Regions from separate parts of the Homo sapiens genome. Here region 1 is linked to region 2. The links come from fine-mapping of genetic effects on gene expression. Tissue or cell type: cerebellar hemisphere. Region 2 holds a variant in brackets; the other region holds the start of a gene. All regions are shown on one strand. Distances are from middle to middle.

What was found. PIP is the estimated chance that this variant, and not a neighbour inherited with it, causes the effect.
Region 1: RHBDL2 starts here. The variant in region 2 is fine-mapped to the expression of RHBDL2 in cerebellar hemisphere (GTEx, PIP 0.93).

What each region holds. Positions count from the first base shown.
Region 1 is chr1:38,936,818-38,944,924 of GRCh38, reverse strand. RHBDL2 (rhomboid like 2) reads left to right here and starts at 3,095. Exons shown (of 8, transcript NM_017821.5): 1 at 3,095-3,243.
Region 2 is chr1:38,832,517-38,840,608 of GRCh38, reverse strand. RRAGC (Ras related GTP binding C) reads left to right here. Exons shown (of 7, transcript NM_022157.4): 7 at 905-2,411. The coding sequence ends at 1,056. Among named protein-coding and RNA genes, the nearest start is that of RRAGC, 23 kb to the left of the region's middle. The variant A/G (reference allele first, on the strand shown) is at 4,261.

The DNA of each region.
Region 1 (8,107 bases), 100 kb before region 2:
AGGCTTCCCACTGTCATTCATCCCTGGATATTCAACATCTCTTAATGACTTCCTTTACCCTTCCCAGATCTTCAAATCTAGCTGAAGATGCCTTCTCCTTCCTGCTGGTACCCTGACTGATACATAACTCCTGTCTATCCCTGGAGCAACTACTCCTTGAACATCTCCGCAGGTGCCTCTGACTCAACAGGTCCAGAACAGAATTCATTTCCCCCCAAATTGCTTTTCTTCCTGATCCTGAAATTTTTTTTTTTTTTTTGAGACGGAGTCTTGCTCTGATGCCCAGGCTGTAATGTAGTGGTGCCATCTCAGCTCAATGCAACCTCCGCCTTCCAGGTTCAAGCAATTCTAGTGCCTCAGCCCCCCGAGTAGTTGGGACTACAGGCATGTGCCAACATGCCTGGCTAAATTTTTGTATTTTTAGTAAAGACGGGGTTTCACCGTGTTAGCCAGGATGGTCTTGATCTCCTGACATTGTGATCCTCCCGCCTTGGCCTCCCAAAGTGCTGGGATTACAGACGTGAGCCACCTCACCCAACTCTTTTTCTTTTGAGACAGAGTCTCGCTCTGTCATCCACGCTAGTCTGCAGTGATGTGATCTCTGCTCACTGCAACCTCCGCCTCCTGGGTTCAAGTGATTCTCCTGTCTCAGCCTCCTGAGTAGCTGGGATTACAAGCATTCGCCACCATGCCCAGCTAATTTTTGTATTTTTAGTAGAGACAGGGTTTCACCATGTTGGCCAGGCTTGTCTCAAACTCCTGACCTCAAGTGATCCACCCATCTCGGCCTCCCAAAGTATTGGGATTACAGGCGTGAGCCACCGCGCCTGGCCATTCTTCCTGATTTCTCAATCTTGTTTGTGGTCACCACTATCAACCTAGTTAGTTATTCCAGCTGGAAATCTTCGAGTCATCCTAGATTCCTCCCTTACTCTTTAAGTCCCATCAATGGTACTCCCTTAGCATCTCTTGAATCTCTTTCTCTCACTCCCACCCCCACTCCCTAGCCAATGCCTTGATAAGGCCTACATTATCACTTGCCCTGACTCATGCAACCCTGACTGGTTTTCTTGCCTCTAGTCTTGCCTCCTTCAAACCCTTCTTTACACTGCAGGTCTCAGTGAATTTTTTTTTTTTTAAGACAGGGTCTCACTCTGTCATCCAGGCTAGAGTGCTGTGGTGTGATCATAGCTCATTGCAGCCTCAACCTCTTGGGCTCAAGCTGTCCTCTCACTTCGGCCTCTGGAGTATAGCTGGGACTACATGTGCACACTACCATTGCCCGGATAATTAAAAAAAATTTGTTTTGTAGAGACAGGTGCCACTATGTTGCTCAGGCTGGTCTCGAACTCCTGGGCCTAAGCAATCCTCCAGCCTTGACCTCCCAAATTGCTGGGATTACAGGTGTGAGCCACCACACCTGGCTCCAGTGATCTATTTTAAATGCAGTCTGATAGTTTGTGTCCCTTGTTTAAGGCCTATCTGTGAGCTAGCAGGGTGTGGTGTACCACCTGTAATCCCAGCGCTCTGGGAAGTCAAGGCGGGAGGATCTCTTGAGGCCAGGAGTTCGTGATCACCCTGGGCAACAGAGTGAAATTCCATCTCTACAAAAAATTTAAAAACTGGCTGACCATGGTGGTGGGTGCCTGTAGTCCCAGCTACACAGGCAGCTGAAGTGGGAGGATCACTTGAGTCCAGGAGTTCAAGGCTGCTTCAAGCTATGAGTGCACCACTGCACTCTAGCCTGGGTAACTGAGAGAGATCCTATTTTTTCTTTTTTCTTTTTTTTTGAGATGGAGTCTCACTCTGTTGCCCAGGCTAGAGTGCAGTGGCGCAATCTCGGCTCACTGCAACCTCTGCCTCCCAGAGAGACCCTGTATTGCAACAAACAAACGAACAAACAAACAAACAATCTTTCTATGACTCCCCAGAACCTATAGGACACAGTCCAAACTGTTTACCAAGGCACACAAGGCCCTTCATGATCTGACACTCCCTGCTCACAATTCTGAACTTTGAGTAGTTCCTGCTGAATTCCGTCCCTTCCCATGGCCTTTTCTGTCAGCCTGTGCTCCCCTTCTGTGTGCTCCCCGCTTACAATTCTGGAAAACCCCTGTTCACCTTTCAAAACCCATCTTGTATGTCATGTCATCTAGGAGCTTTTCCAGAACACTTCCACACAGGGGGATTCCTCTCTGGTCCCTTCTGCCTGAATTTTTTTTTTTTTTTTTTTTTGAGACCGAGTTTCGCTGTTGTTGCCCAGGCTGGAGTGCAATGGCGTGATCTTGGCTCACTGCAACCTCCGCCTCCCGGGTTCAAGCGATTCTCCTGCCTCAGCCTCCCGAGTGGCTGGGATTACAGGCATGCACCACCATGCCCAGCTAATTTTGTATTTTTAGTAGAGATGAGGTTTCTCCATGTTGATCAGGCTGGTCTCGAACTCCCGACTTCAGGTGATCCACCCACCTCAACCTCCCAAAGTGCTGGGATTACAGGCGTGAGACACCATGCCTGGCCACCTTCTGCCTGAATCTTGAGCAGCGTCTACTTAGAGCTTCATTCTTTGTCTTCCTAGTAGAGTAGGAGGTCAGGGACCCCGTTAATCTACCTCTTCATCCTCAGGGCCTCACACAAGGCCAGTTATTCTCAAAATGCTTTGAATGAATAATCAGAGCTGGCAAAGCTATTTCACCAGGGGCCATGGTGTCACCAATTCTTCTGTGGACTAAATCTCTGCTGAGGATCGTCAAGTCACCCACCCTGGTGCCCAGTACAGGCCTGGCTTCAGACTGGAGCATAACCAAATGCAGAGTGATAGAGACCACCCGGTTGAGGCGTCAGAGAGCTGAGAGTGGAGAGCAGGGGACCCAGGCATGAAGCAGGAGGGCAGGACTTGGAGGAGGAATGGAGCTCAGTGTCCTGGAGAAAGAGCAGAGGCTGCCACCGGCTCCCTGGCTAAGACCCAAGCAGGCGAAGAGGAGGACTCATTCATCCAGGGCCAGCCCAGGAGCAAGACTGCCAAGCAGGCCGGCCCAGCCCAGCTGGGAGGGGATTTCCTCAGCCTCCCTCCTCCTGGGCTGGGCAGCTTTGGAACCTGTCTGGAGGATTTTTGTTTGGGGAGGGACGGAGGAGCGCCTGGCAGAGCGGGATCTTCAGGGCAGCGGGCAACCCCTTGGCCCAGGAAGCCTGGAACGCAAGGACCGGAGGGCGTGGGCTGGGACGCCCCTACCTTGGTCTTTCAGGGTAAGATGTGGGAGCTGGGAGGGAGTGGAGGGAGTCCTATGTCAGGACAAGGGGGCGGCAGCAGGAAGTGCAGGGCCGAGGGGTGCTGTGCAGGAAGGAGGAGGGACATGTGGGGTGCTTCGCTGGTAACCCCCCTTCTGGAGTGACCTCCTGGTGTGGCCGCTTTGGATCCTGCTACTTTCATTTTAAAAGTTGGCAGCATGTTGGGCCAGGAGTCAGGGGCTATCTTCCCGAGGGAAATGGCAGGGAAGGGCTGAGGATGAGGACAGAGTAATTCCATTCCTCTTCCCTGCCCTTCACACTGGCTTTCCCTCCAGCCATCACGTTCTCCCCAGCACCCCCTACCCTCCTAAGTTTTTCTAACTCCAACTAAGCCAGTTCCTAGCCCTTTGCTGACCTGGACACTGGAGACCACAGCCAGGGAGACAGTCTCCACTTCTACCCGCAAGGCGGCTCCTCCAGAGTTATTTGTTTCCTTCTTCCTGGTGTGGGTATCAGAGAGATTTCACTCAATCTTTCATTTATTCATTAGTGTTCATTTGTTTATTCATCACTGTTTGAGCATATACCTGGATTCTCTGGAGGGAGGGCTGCGCAATTTCTGCTCCTCTTGGGAATAAGAAAACTGAAACTTATTGCTCAAACATTTGATGGTCATCTACAAGCTGGTGGGCAGCATGGCAGAGCAGAAAATTATTTTGGAGTCACAAAGACACTTGGCTTTTTATCCCATATCTCCTGTTTACCTCCTGAGCCTCAGTTTCCTCAGCTATAATTTTTTTTTAAAGAGACAGGGTCTTGCTACCTTGCCCAGGCTGCAGTGCAGTGGCTGATCATAGCTTACTACAACTTCAAACTCCTGTGCTCAAGCAGTCTTCTTGCCTCAGCTTCCTGAGTTAACTGAGGCACGGCGGCCAGCTCAAAATGATATTTTTATGAAGATGACAGGGAACAATGCATGTTGAATACCAAGCTGGGTGCCAGGCTCATTGTGGAGCCTTCCTAAACACCTGTGCTTTTCCCTTCCTCTTTGACTGCCTTCTTGCCATGCCTCTCCCTAACCAGCAACTCCCTCACCTTAGGCTTGTAAAGATATGCTAGACAACCCCTGGCCTTGAAAGCACGTAGGCAGCGTGTAAACAGAACTGGCCAGTGACGGGTGGAGTGGTGAAGGGAGAGGGAAGGTTGGGTTCCATGGCTCGCTCCCAGTGATTTGGGAGGCCGAGGCGGGAGGATTCCTTGAGTCCAGGAGTTCGAGACCAGCCTGGGCAATAAAGTGAGGCCTTGTCTTTAAAAAATAAAATAAAAAAGAAGGGAGAGCCACATAGGCATGGGATTAGGGAAGGTGTCAGGTGCTGGTTTGTGGTAAAAATACTGGACCAGGGCTGAGTCCAGACATGCTGTGTTTCTGAATTTGCACACTCAACACTGAGCAAGTGATGGGAACCACCAATTCCTAAACTATGGATGCAGGCTAAGGGCTTTTAAATGCATTCTCTTATTTAATCATAATCCTCTTATGATATTATTATTAACCCTATTTTATAGATGGGGAAATGAAGATACAAACAGGTTAAGGGATTTGCCTAAGGTCACATGGCTAATAAGTAATGGATCCAGAATTCAAGTCTAGGTCAGACTCTAAACTCCATGCTTTTTGCTCTGGTGCTTGCTGTCTTTCAAGTTTCTCTGTATTAGAAAGACCAGGCTGGGGGCGGTGACTCATGCCTGTAGTCCCAACATTTTGGGAGGCTGAGGTAGGAGGATTGCTTGAAGCCAGGAGTTCAAAGCCAGCCTGGGCAACAAGCGAGACCCTGTCTCAAAAAAAAAAGAAGTCCTGGCACGGTGGCTCACGCCAGCCGTAGTAATCCCAGCACTTTAGGAGGCCAAGGTGGGAGAATTGCTTGAGTCCAGGACTTTGAGACTGGCCTGGGCAACACAGTGAGACCTCTTCTCTACAAAAAATAAAACAAAATTAGCCTGGTGTGGTGGTGTGCACCTGTAGTCTCAGCTACTTGGTTTTTTTTTTGAGGTGGAGCCTCACTCTGTGGCCCAGGCTGGAGTGCAGTGGCGGCATCCCCATCTCAGTTGATTCTCTCACCTCAGCCTCCTGAATAGCTGGGACTATAGGTGCACACCATCATGCCCAGCTAACTTTTGTTGTTGTTGTTGTTGTATTTTTGGTAGAGACAAGGTTTCATCATGTTGCCCAGGATGGTCTTGAACTCCTGGACTCGAGTGATCCACCTGCCTTGGCCTCCCAAAGTGTGGGGATTACAGGCATGAGCCACCATGCCTGGCCCATCTCAGCTACTTTGTAGGCTGAGATGGGAGGATCATTTGAGCCTGAGACGCCAAGGCTGCCGTGAGCTGAGATCAGGCCGCTGCACTCCAGCCTGGGTGACAGAGCAAGACTGTCTCTCAAGGAAAAGAAAAAAGAAAGACCAAAAGGGCATCAGCATTCCCCAACTACCTCTCTAGACACTGGCCTTTCACTTCCTGTAGATCTGCTCTGGGCTGCTGCATCCAGACTCCTTCCCTGATTCGTTAACTCATTCACTCATTCCTACATCATTCATTAAATCAAGTGCTCTGTTTATCCCCTGAGACTACAAAGTTTCAAGAGGGCAGGGATCATAAGCATGATCCTGTTCATTCAGTTTTATAATCCTGTTCGTTCAGCACCTCATTCATTCCTGATACAAAAATTTTCAATGAATTCTTTGTGAGTAAATGAATTTGACAAATATTTACTGATGCATTCCATGGACTAGGTAATAGGGAGTCAAAGATGAATAATGCGGAAGCCCTGTCCTCAGAATGCTCACAGCCTTGTAGAGGAGACAGTTATAATACAAAGAAGACATTGATGCTCTAGATGCAAACAGAGGTTGCTGATGGAACTAAGAAGGGCATTTAATTCTACCATGCATCCTCGGTGCCTAACACAATGCTAAGCATGTGGTAGATGCTCAGTAAGGCTTTGCAGAGGAGTTGTAAAGGACAGAGTCTTTTAGTTTTGTTTTTCTTTAATTAAAAAATTTTCTTTTCTTTTCTTTAACTTAATCCCAAATGTGATAGTAAGGAACAGAGTCTTAAAGGGGGTGTTAATACTTCCCTGGGACAACAAATGGGGAGTGTGGGAGGATGTTCTAGCAGAGGGAGGAGCTCATGAAAAGACCTCATGGAGAGTGGGAGCTGGAACTGCTAGGGGCTCAGTGTGGCTGGGGCATAGGGTATATTTGGGGAAATGGAAAGAAATGAAGGTGGATAAATAGGCAGGGTTCAGGTCATGAGGTCTTTCTGTGCCTCGTTAAGGAATCTAGGCTTTAAACCAAAGACATTGGATACCCATTGAAAAGATTTTGGCTGGGCGCGGTGGCTCACGCCTCTAATCCCAGCACTTTGGGAGGCCGAGGCGGGCGGATCACAAGGTCAGGAGTTCGAGACCAGCCTGACCAATATGGTGAAACCCCACCTCTACTAAAAAAAAAAAATTAGCTGGGCATGGTGGCGTGCACCTGTAGTCCCAGCCACTCTGGAGGTTGAGGGAGGAGAATCGCTTGAACCCAGGAGGCAGAGGTTGTAGTGAGTCAAGATTGTGCCGCTGCACTCCAGCCTGGGCAACAGAGTGAGACACTGTCTCAAAAAAAAAAAAATTAGCAATGAGAATGACACTACCTGATTTGCATTTCAGAAGTGAGGCTGATGTGTAGGGGCCTAGGATATGAAGACGCCAAGGTTTTCAGGCCTGATGGGTCCCCACCTATCTATGAAAATTAGTCTTCCTTTTTAAGACTTCAGCATGGTTTGTTCATGAAGGATCTCTTGAGTTGGCCTGTTCCTGATGACTGGTACTTTGCCCTCAGCTGTATACTGGGTCACAGTGAATCTGTTCCTCCTAATAAAAGTTTGGAAATTTATAAATAGTTTCCTTTTGTATAATCTGGAATAAGTTCAAGGATACTACTTGCAATACCTTGTGCTTTCTTATGCCAGAGAGCTAGAGATGGAGGTGTAGAAGGGTTTCCAGGAATTATATCTAGCTCTGAGTGTGCCCAGTGAGGGTGTGTCAAACTAGCCAGTGGTCCTGGAACTGGGGATGCGGGGGCACAGATAACATTAAAAGAGTCCATTTCCAGATTCTCAGCTTCTGCAGGGACTCTTGCCTAAAAGTCATCTGCTTGTCTGGATTCTTTTAAGTTCTCCTTTTCAACTCTGTTTTCATTGTTTCTCTTCTTTGGCTTTATAAGAAAGTTACACCTCTGTCCATCCCAAATTCATTGAACAAGGTCCATTGTTCAAAAGGACAGTTAGAGAATGCTGTGTTCCTGAGAGATAGCAAGTAAAGAGAGATTAGGCAGGAGAAACTAAAGGGTGCTGTGCCTCTACTACAGACTCGTAGTATTTGTTTTATTTAAGAATACTCGGCCAGGGGCCAGGCGCGGTGGCTCACGCCTGTAATCCCAGCACTTTGAGAGGCCGAGGCGGGTGGATCACAAGGTCAGGAGATTGAGACATCCTGGCTAATATGGTGAAACCCTGTCTCTACTAAAAATACAAAAAATTAGCTGGGTGTGGTGGCGGGTGCCTGTAGTCTCAGCTACTTGGGAGGCTGAGGCAGGAGAATGGTGTGAACCCGGGAGGCGGAGCATGCAGTGAGCCGAGACTGTGCCACTGCACTCCAGCCTGGGTGACAGGGTGAGACTCTGTCTCAAAAAAAAAAAAAAGAACACTCGAGAATACTCGGCCAGGCATGGTGGCTCACACCTGTAATCCCAGCACTTTGGGAGGCCGAGTTGGGTGGATGACTTGAGGTCAGGAGTTCAAGACCAGCCTGGCCAACATGGTGAAACCTCGTCTC
Region 2 (8,092 bases):
TTGTCCCTGAAGTTTTCAGTTGATTACTTTGCCCTGCACTTGGCTTTTTCTTTGGATTTCCTTCACAGTTGTAGTCAATTTGACACCAGATTGTTTTGGTTTGTTTCTTGTATTTTGGCTTTATGCCTCAGCTAGCATATCCTGTCTGGAAGTCATGGACCATATCTGCTGTTTCCTTTGACATATTGTACCCTCTATCGTGCTGTGTAATAAGTATTTACTGACTTTCATCAAATCAAATATAAACTATTGAAAGATCACACTATGTTCAAGCAGGCCACACAGTGTATTTGAATATTTTACTTTTCTTGAATGTGAATTGAGTGATTTGAAACTTGGATGCCAGAGGTATTAATTTGGCCAAGGTGATGGTCTAATTGCAATCGCATTTGTTTTCTAGCAGAACGTTATGATGGTGGATATATATGATGACCAGCTGTTCTTTTTTTTTTTTTTTTTTTGAGTTGGAGTCTCGCTCTGTCACCCAGGCTGGAATGCAATGGTGCAATCTTGGCTCACTGCAAGCTTTGCCTCCCAGGTTCACGCCATTCTCTTGCCTCAGCCTCCTGAGTAGCTGGTACTACAGGTGCCCGCCACCATGCCCGGCTAATTTTTTTTGTATTTTTAGTAGAGACGGGGTTTCACCGTGTTAGCCAGGATGGTCTTGATCTCCTGACCTTGTGATCTGCCCGCCTCGGCCTCCCAAAGTGCTGGGGTTACAGGCGTGAGCCACTGCACCTGACCGATGACCAGCTGTTCTTACGATTGAAGAAGTTGCTATCTAGTTTGGAGGCTTAAGAATTTCCAACCAGTGTTTATCCGAGTTATTTTTGGCTGCAAACCCAAATATAAAATTTCACAATTGACAATTCAGGAGGCATTCTTTTCTTTTTCCTTCCTGCAGGTTTAATAGACTACAACTTCCACTGTTTCCGAAAAGCTATTCATGAGGTTTTTGAGGTGGGTGTGACTTCTCACAGGAGCTGTGGTCACCAGACTAGTGCCTCCAGTCTGAAAGCGCTGACACACAATGGCACGCCACGAAACGCCATCTAGTCTGAATCCCAGCGTCGGGGCTCTGTGCCAGCTTACTCTTCACTCCAGGGTCGGATGCCACGTGCTACAGGACATGGGAGCTGCTGCTTGTGGGAATCTGGTGCCTGTTCCACTAGAGACAAGGGGTAGAGTTTCTCATTTGGATGAAAACCCCTTCAACTGGTGGTGTACAACTGAAGCTACTATATCTTTTTTGAAAATGGCAAAAAAAAAAAAAAAAAATTCTGGAGACCACAGAACTCAAGTGTGTGTTTCTCCTCTTTTGGGTCCCCTTTAAGTAGTTGGGATATTTTGGACCTGGAGATAACACCAGTTACCCATCCTTACCAGGGAATGTTGCCATCAATTCCAGTTGAAAATAATAGAAAAGACTGAATTTTTATATGCTTCACTTAGGCTTTCATTTGAGTAGACTCTAAAAATTCTGCCTTGCTTAAGTTCTAACACTGCCTCTCAGATTTCAGTTTTGGACATTGCACAACTAAGACCTTTTAAATGCATTTGCTTGCTAACTCGGAAGACACATAGTCTGCAGCAAGACATTCCTATATTGAAGAAATGAGAGAAAATTTTATGCTGCATCAGGTGGAGAGCAAGGCTCAACGGTGGTTGCATTAGTTCCCTCGGAAGTATTGAAAAAACTTTGAAATGGAAGAAAATTTTTGCACCTATGTTCTGAGTACCAGATGTCTGGGTTCTTTCTTCTGCATTAGATAAATGATCATGCTCAGTGTAACAAAGGGAATTAAAAGTTTTCCCACAGTCCCCTTCTAGGGGAGAAACTCATTGTGTCACTGAAATGTTTAGCTTACTTTAATCTTGATATCAGCCTCTACAGACCTTTTATTCTAAGCTATCGAGCTTCTTGATTGCATTTGGTTGACCACGAGTGACCCTAAGGCATTGGGGGACTGTCCACTGGGAGTTGGAGTGAGCACGTGGTGCTGCAACAGGCATTGTTTTACATACTTTGTCTCTAGTATTCTGACACCAAGTGTCAACTGTGGTACTTTCTTTGCCTAGGATATGAATTCATAATTGTTGCTTTTGTTGATGGTTGATACCCTTTCCATTGATTTAAACCTAACACATTATTTCTATTCCACATGCCCAGTAGACATATATTCCAAAGCCACTGGACCACTTGAGTACATAAGTGCCACTGTTTAATGCAATATGTATATTCAGGTCTGTAAAGCTAACAGTGTGACTTGGAGTGCTTCCTGCAGGTGATTCTGACTTGAGTATTTACATGGACCATGGTGATATCCAAAAGAAAAATGCTTTTTATATTTATAGATTATTTCATTGAACTATATATGAAATGGGTATCAATAAATGTATTTACTCCAAAATCAGCGTTTCTCCTTGCCTGAGGTATGGAGGGTGGTGGCGGAACGTTGGGTTGTCCCACTTTGCCGTTTTCTCATCCATTTCTTTTTCTTTTGCTGCTTCCTGTGGTTAATGTTTCTTATGTGTCAGAGCTTCAGGTTCTATCCCGATGTGGGAATTTCATGGCCTTGTGTCTAGGTATCTCCCCTGGCCCATTTCTGCTCTAGGGTAGTAAATCTAAGCTCAGGTGAAAATGTTTTTGGTTGGGTGTTTCATATACACAAATCTCACACATGGTGGGGAGTATCCTGGTCCTGGCATCATTAATGTGTTAATCCAACCTAAGAAGGAGTGAGGAGATGAGTGAAGTAAAACACACTTAAACAATTGTACCGATTCCAGCTTGTTTTCTGTTTCCTCCAGTTGCTGACATACTCATTGACTCACTCTTAAATGTCAGTTAAATAATTGTTTGTCTATACAAACAGGTTGGGTCTAAACTAATCAGAGAAAAATAGACATTAGTTTATCAGTGGGAGGAAGACAGATTGAAAGATCTTTAAATTTTGTAATTGGACTACTTTAGAAGCTGTTTTAATTCTGAAATGGAAATCACAGAAACAGCTTGAAAAAACTCTTGTGAAACTATCTAATCCTGTCTTCTTTTTCAGATTTTGGAAACAGGTGCAGAGGGATAAGGAGCCTTGTTGAGGCTGTAGCTAGGAAGACTGTATAACTTAAATTCCAGATACTGTTGAGAGTGGAAGGGATGCCATTAGTAAGGATGCCTGAGCAGCAGGTGTGAACTGGCACTGTTGAGGGTACACTAAGGGTGGCCAGCCTCATCATAGATCTAATTAGTGGCAAAACAGGGCTTGTCCTCCAGGCCTGGCAGCCCAGCGTGGCATGCCTTTACTTGCAGCCTCCGGCCTTAGGCTCCCATTGGTTAAATGGAGAGAATATTTCAAGATGCATGTGGTACATAGATGCCCAATAAATGTTATGTTTTCCTGTTACTGAAAATTATAAATTCAGTCAGTGATTAAGGAGAAGTCTTTAATTGTGAAATAGAAAGTAAATGTGAAAGGAGACAACTCAGGATGAAGAAAACGGAGAATAAAATGATCAGGGTTTTGCTTGAAATGTTTTGCATCCCAGTGGATGTTGATCTCTACCAGTCTACTTCAAAGAGAACTAGGACAGATGGTTAAAAAATACCTTAAAGTCTTAAGCAGCAAGGTATTTTAGCTATTTCACATACCACCACCTCTCCCATTCACATTCATATATACACACACATACATATATGCATGTATATAATATCTCAATATAGAATGCTGGAGGTATTTGGGAGTTAATTTACCTTCTACATCTTGAGTTCTGTGTGGAGAAATGATTTAAAAGATAAAATCAAGCATTGTTGGAGAAAGCACTGTGTGTGAATTTTGGACTTTGGTAAGGATCTCTATCCTTTGTTTTGCAAATGCTGAAAGCCCTTCCAGTTATTCAAAAGAGATTATTAGTACCACTGTTTTCCATCTAAGCTAGTAAGTAAGCTAGTTAGTTTAAATGCTCCCCCTGTCCCTCTTGGGGGTCCCAAAGGAACATAGTCTGTAAGGGGAATGTGGACAGCAGCTGGGCATAACTGGAGAGGTTTTTTTTTTTTTTTTTTTTTTGAGACAAAATTTCGCTCTTGTCACCCAGGCGGCTGGAGTGCAATGGCGCAATCTTGGCTCACCGCAACATCCACCTCCCGGATTCAAGCGATTCTCCTGCCTCAGGCTCCTGAGTAGCTGGGATTACAGGCATGCGCCACCACACCCGGCTAATTTTGTATTTTTTCGGTAGAGATGGGGTTTCTCCATTTTGGCC[A/G]GGCTGGTCTTGAACTCCCGACCTCAGGTGATCCACCTGCCTCGGCCTCCCAAAGTGCTGGGATTACAGGCATGAGCCACCGTGCCAGGTGAGTGTTATTTGTTAATAGTAACTTCCCGGAACGGTACATTAGGATACTTTGGATACAAATAACATCCAAGAAGGACTTGAAGGGAAAGCCAACCACCACTAATTATTTTAGGTGGTTTACGTGTATTACCTTGTAATCTTCACAACTCCTTGGGAAGTAGGTGTTATATTCCTATGTTACAGAAGGGGAAATAGATACAGAACGGCTCAATTGTAAAGTGGTAGAGTTAGAATGGGAACCCATGCAGTTTGATTCCATAACCTGCAGCCGCAAACTACCACTCGACCTTCCTTTCCTAGTAGGGAGGGCGAGTTTGCTCACTGGTGTGTTTTGAAAGAAAGAAAACAACAACAACAACAAAAGGATTCTATAGTTAAGTTTTGGAAACTTGCAATCTGTAGTCTCTCTTTGGAGATTTTCTACATACAGTCAAATATGAAAGGTTCTGAGAAGACCTGCAATAAGGAAGCCTGTTTACCTTGGTTTATATCCCATGTTCCTAGGTTTATTTGACACATTAAAGAAATGCATATTCATTCAATCAGTGTGTAATAAATTCACAGTTTTGAAATGTTTTCATGAGATTGGAAGTATGATTTTTACACTGTTTTCCAAGTATCTTAATACAACCATCACCAAACTGGTTTCTTGGATGGCTAGTTCAACACCTGTCTTTGTAGGTAGTGAGCAGGAAGCATATTTAACTACTCTGTAACATTTCCTCAGTATCTTTACTCATTTAAGCCAGATGTGCTGCGAAGCACAGGCAGCTTGTCTACCTTTTCAGCCTGTTTGGTGATGGTGTCCAAGTCCTTAGTGTATGGCCTCTAGGTGGCAGTGTTGTATTATCTAAACACAGCTTCTTGCTTTCTGGCTTCTGCATGTGTGCTCTGTCCTGAAAGTTTGTATTGCCCGTATCACCTAAGTGCACACCTAACTTAGAGATCCAAAAAATTCCTGAAGTATTTTCCCTAGGATAACATTCAGGACTGATTTGAGACATCTTATTGGAAGTGGAGCAGTTGATGATTTCCACTTTTTAGTGAGGGGTTGGGTAAAACGAAGGTCATTAACATCATTTGCTTTATGTATTACTAGTTACAAAAGGGCCTTAAGACAGCTGTAGCCACATTCCTATAGCAGGCAGAACTTCTTGCTTCCTCTTCTAATCCATCTGTTGTAAATGTGTGTGGTCTTCAAGACTCCATGGAAAGAAATGCCACATATTTGAATTAAAATATCTGTTTTCACCACTTTTCTTTGTGTCAAATGAGGTTTGTTGAAATTATTTCACACTTATGCTTGAGAGATAAAATATGGCAAAGGAAAAGGCTGCAGAACCTTATCCTTCCATGGGTACTTATTTTTCCTTTTTTTTTTTTTTTTGAGACAAGGTCTTGCTCTGTCATACAGGCTGGAGTGCAGTGGCACGATCATAGCTCCCTGCGACCTCAACCTCCCAGGCTCAAGCGATCCTCCTGCCTCAGCCTCCCGAATAGCTGGGACTACAGGCATGCACCACCATGCCTGGCTAATTTTCTTTTTAATGTAGAGATGAGGGTCTCTCCATGTTGCCCAGGCTGGTCTCAGACTCCTGGGATCAGGCAATCCTCCACTGCCTCAGCTTCCCAAAGTGCTGGGATTACAGGTGTGAGTCATTGCTCCCAGCTTGTTTTTCTTTCTTCTAGAGCCATGTAATTGCTTCACAATCCCCAGCTGTGACTTTGCTCTGCAAAGACAAATTTTAGTGTAAAAAGAACTAGATACACCAGTGCATCTTCAGACCTGTTTAAAATATAATTGAGAAAATTGCAAAGGACTGTTATAATGAGGAACTGAATGGCAGGAAACTAGTTGTTCCTCCCCACACTTGAAAATGCCAGTTACTACCAACGTGTTGCCCGCAAAGTGCTGCAACTTCCACTTTAAGATTCTTACACTTTAAAATGCATCTTTTGAACTGATCAAATATATATATTTGTTATTGTGTGTTTTGTTTTGAGATGGAGTCTCACTCTGTTGCCCAGGCTGGAGTGCAGTGGCGTGATCTCGGCTCACTGCAACCTCCACCTCCTGGATTCAAGTAGTTCTCCTGCCTCAGCCTTCTGAGTAGCTGGGATTACAGGCGTGCACCACCAGGCCTGGCTAATGTTTTGTGCTTTTAGTAGAGATGGGGTTTCACCATGTTGGCCAGGCTGGTCTCGAACTCTTAACTTCAAGTGATCTGCTCGCCTCGGCCTCCCAGAGTGCTGGGATTACAGGCGTGAGCCACCACACCCAGCCTGGACTGATAAAATATTAGAAGGCATGTGGGAGACAATTAATTTGGTTTATTACAAAGTAACCTGCCGAACAGACAGGAACTTGACTTAGAGAAATGGAATATTAATTTTCTACAATATTCTTTTTGCTTTTCTTTAAAAAAGAGGTGCTGGCACACACATTTTAGCAAATTGTGAATATTCCTTCCTTTCTTTCCATGGCCTCTCTCTTATCTCCATGCAAATTGGCATGCAAACTTTGTGTTCCAGGTAATGAGGCTCCAGACAGGGCCTATCTTTCTCTGAAAAGCAGTGCTGGCATGTTCTGTACTGAGGCTTTTTCCCAGAAAATGTACTGCCTCTACAGCTTTGGAAGATGAACTGAGAAATAACGCTTATAACCCTACCAAACATTTCTCGAATATCTGTCTTGACTTTGGAAAGGGAGCTATTGGCCATTTCCATGCTTGGAGGATTCTTTTCTTCTACTGCACTGTAGTTCTTCCTGGCTAGATGTCTAGCACGGAGGCTCCTTGGACTAGTTCCTCACATGACCCCTGTGGCAGTCTATTGATGGGAACGGGACAATTGAGAAAGGCAGGCAGGCTGTCTGGCAAAAAGAAACTCATTAGGGTCAGGGGCCACAGGATCTCCATGGAGATGTTCTCTGGACTACTAGAGTGTTGAGGCTGGATGAAGGGGAAGAGGGCTGAGCTAGAGATCGAATTGGCATACTGAGTGGGAGCAGGGTGGGGTGGGAGGCAGAACTGGGCCTTAGGGAGGGCCTTGGTCAGTCAATGGAAGGAAGACAGCTGGAACAGAAGTTAGAATGATTCATGCAGTGAGAAGGAAACCAGGTAGAAAGGGAGGAATGCTCACCACTGAAATGTCTCTTATTTGTTGAAATGAAATTAAGGTCTCTAATTTGTTCTTATCCTTCAGGTTTCTGTGCCTGGAATCTGGAAAAGGAGACAGATTCTCCTAGATTTTGCCTAGGAATGTTAGTGACCTTGAGAGGCCTTCCAAATGGAGATCTGGGCCACACAGTGGAGATCTCGACCTGCCTCTGTAGGTCCTTGACTCTCCTCTTCCAATGTATCAAGTCCTTCATTTATTCTTGATTTCTTTCAGATCCAAAATAATGGTCAAAAAAGTGCTGTTTAGCTGGTATTATTTTCATGTTATCCCTTACCACAGTTTATCTCAATTCTCACAGGAGCCTCAATGCTTATCTCTTAGATCCTTTTCTTCTTTTAAAAAATTTGGGCTAGCCTATACTAATAATTGTACTAGTTTAATTAAAATTATGATTAGCAGTAGCATGCGTATCTTAATATTTGAGAGCTTACAGCTTGCCAGCCGTTGTGCTAAGAGCCTTACTTGTGCCTTCTCCTCTAATCCATCCAGTGTAATGAGGTTGGAGCTATTGTTGTGGTCCATTTTACAGATGAGAAAACTGAGGCACAGAGAACCTGCAGGA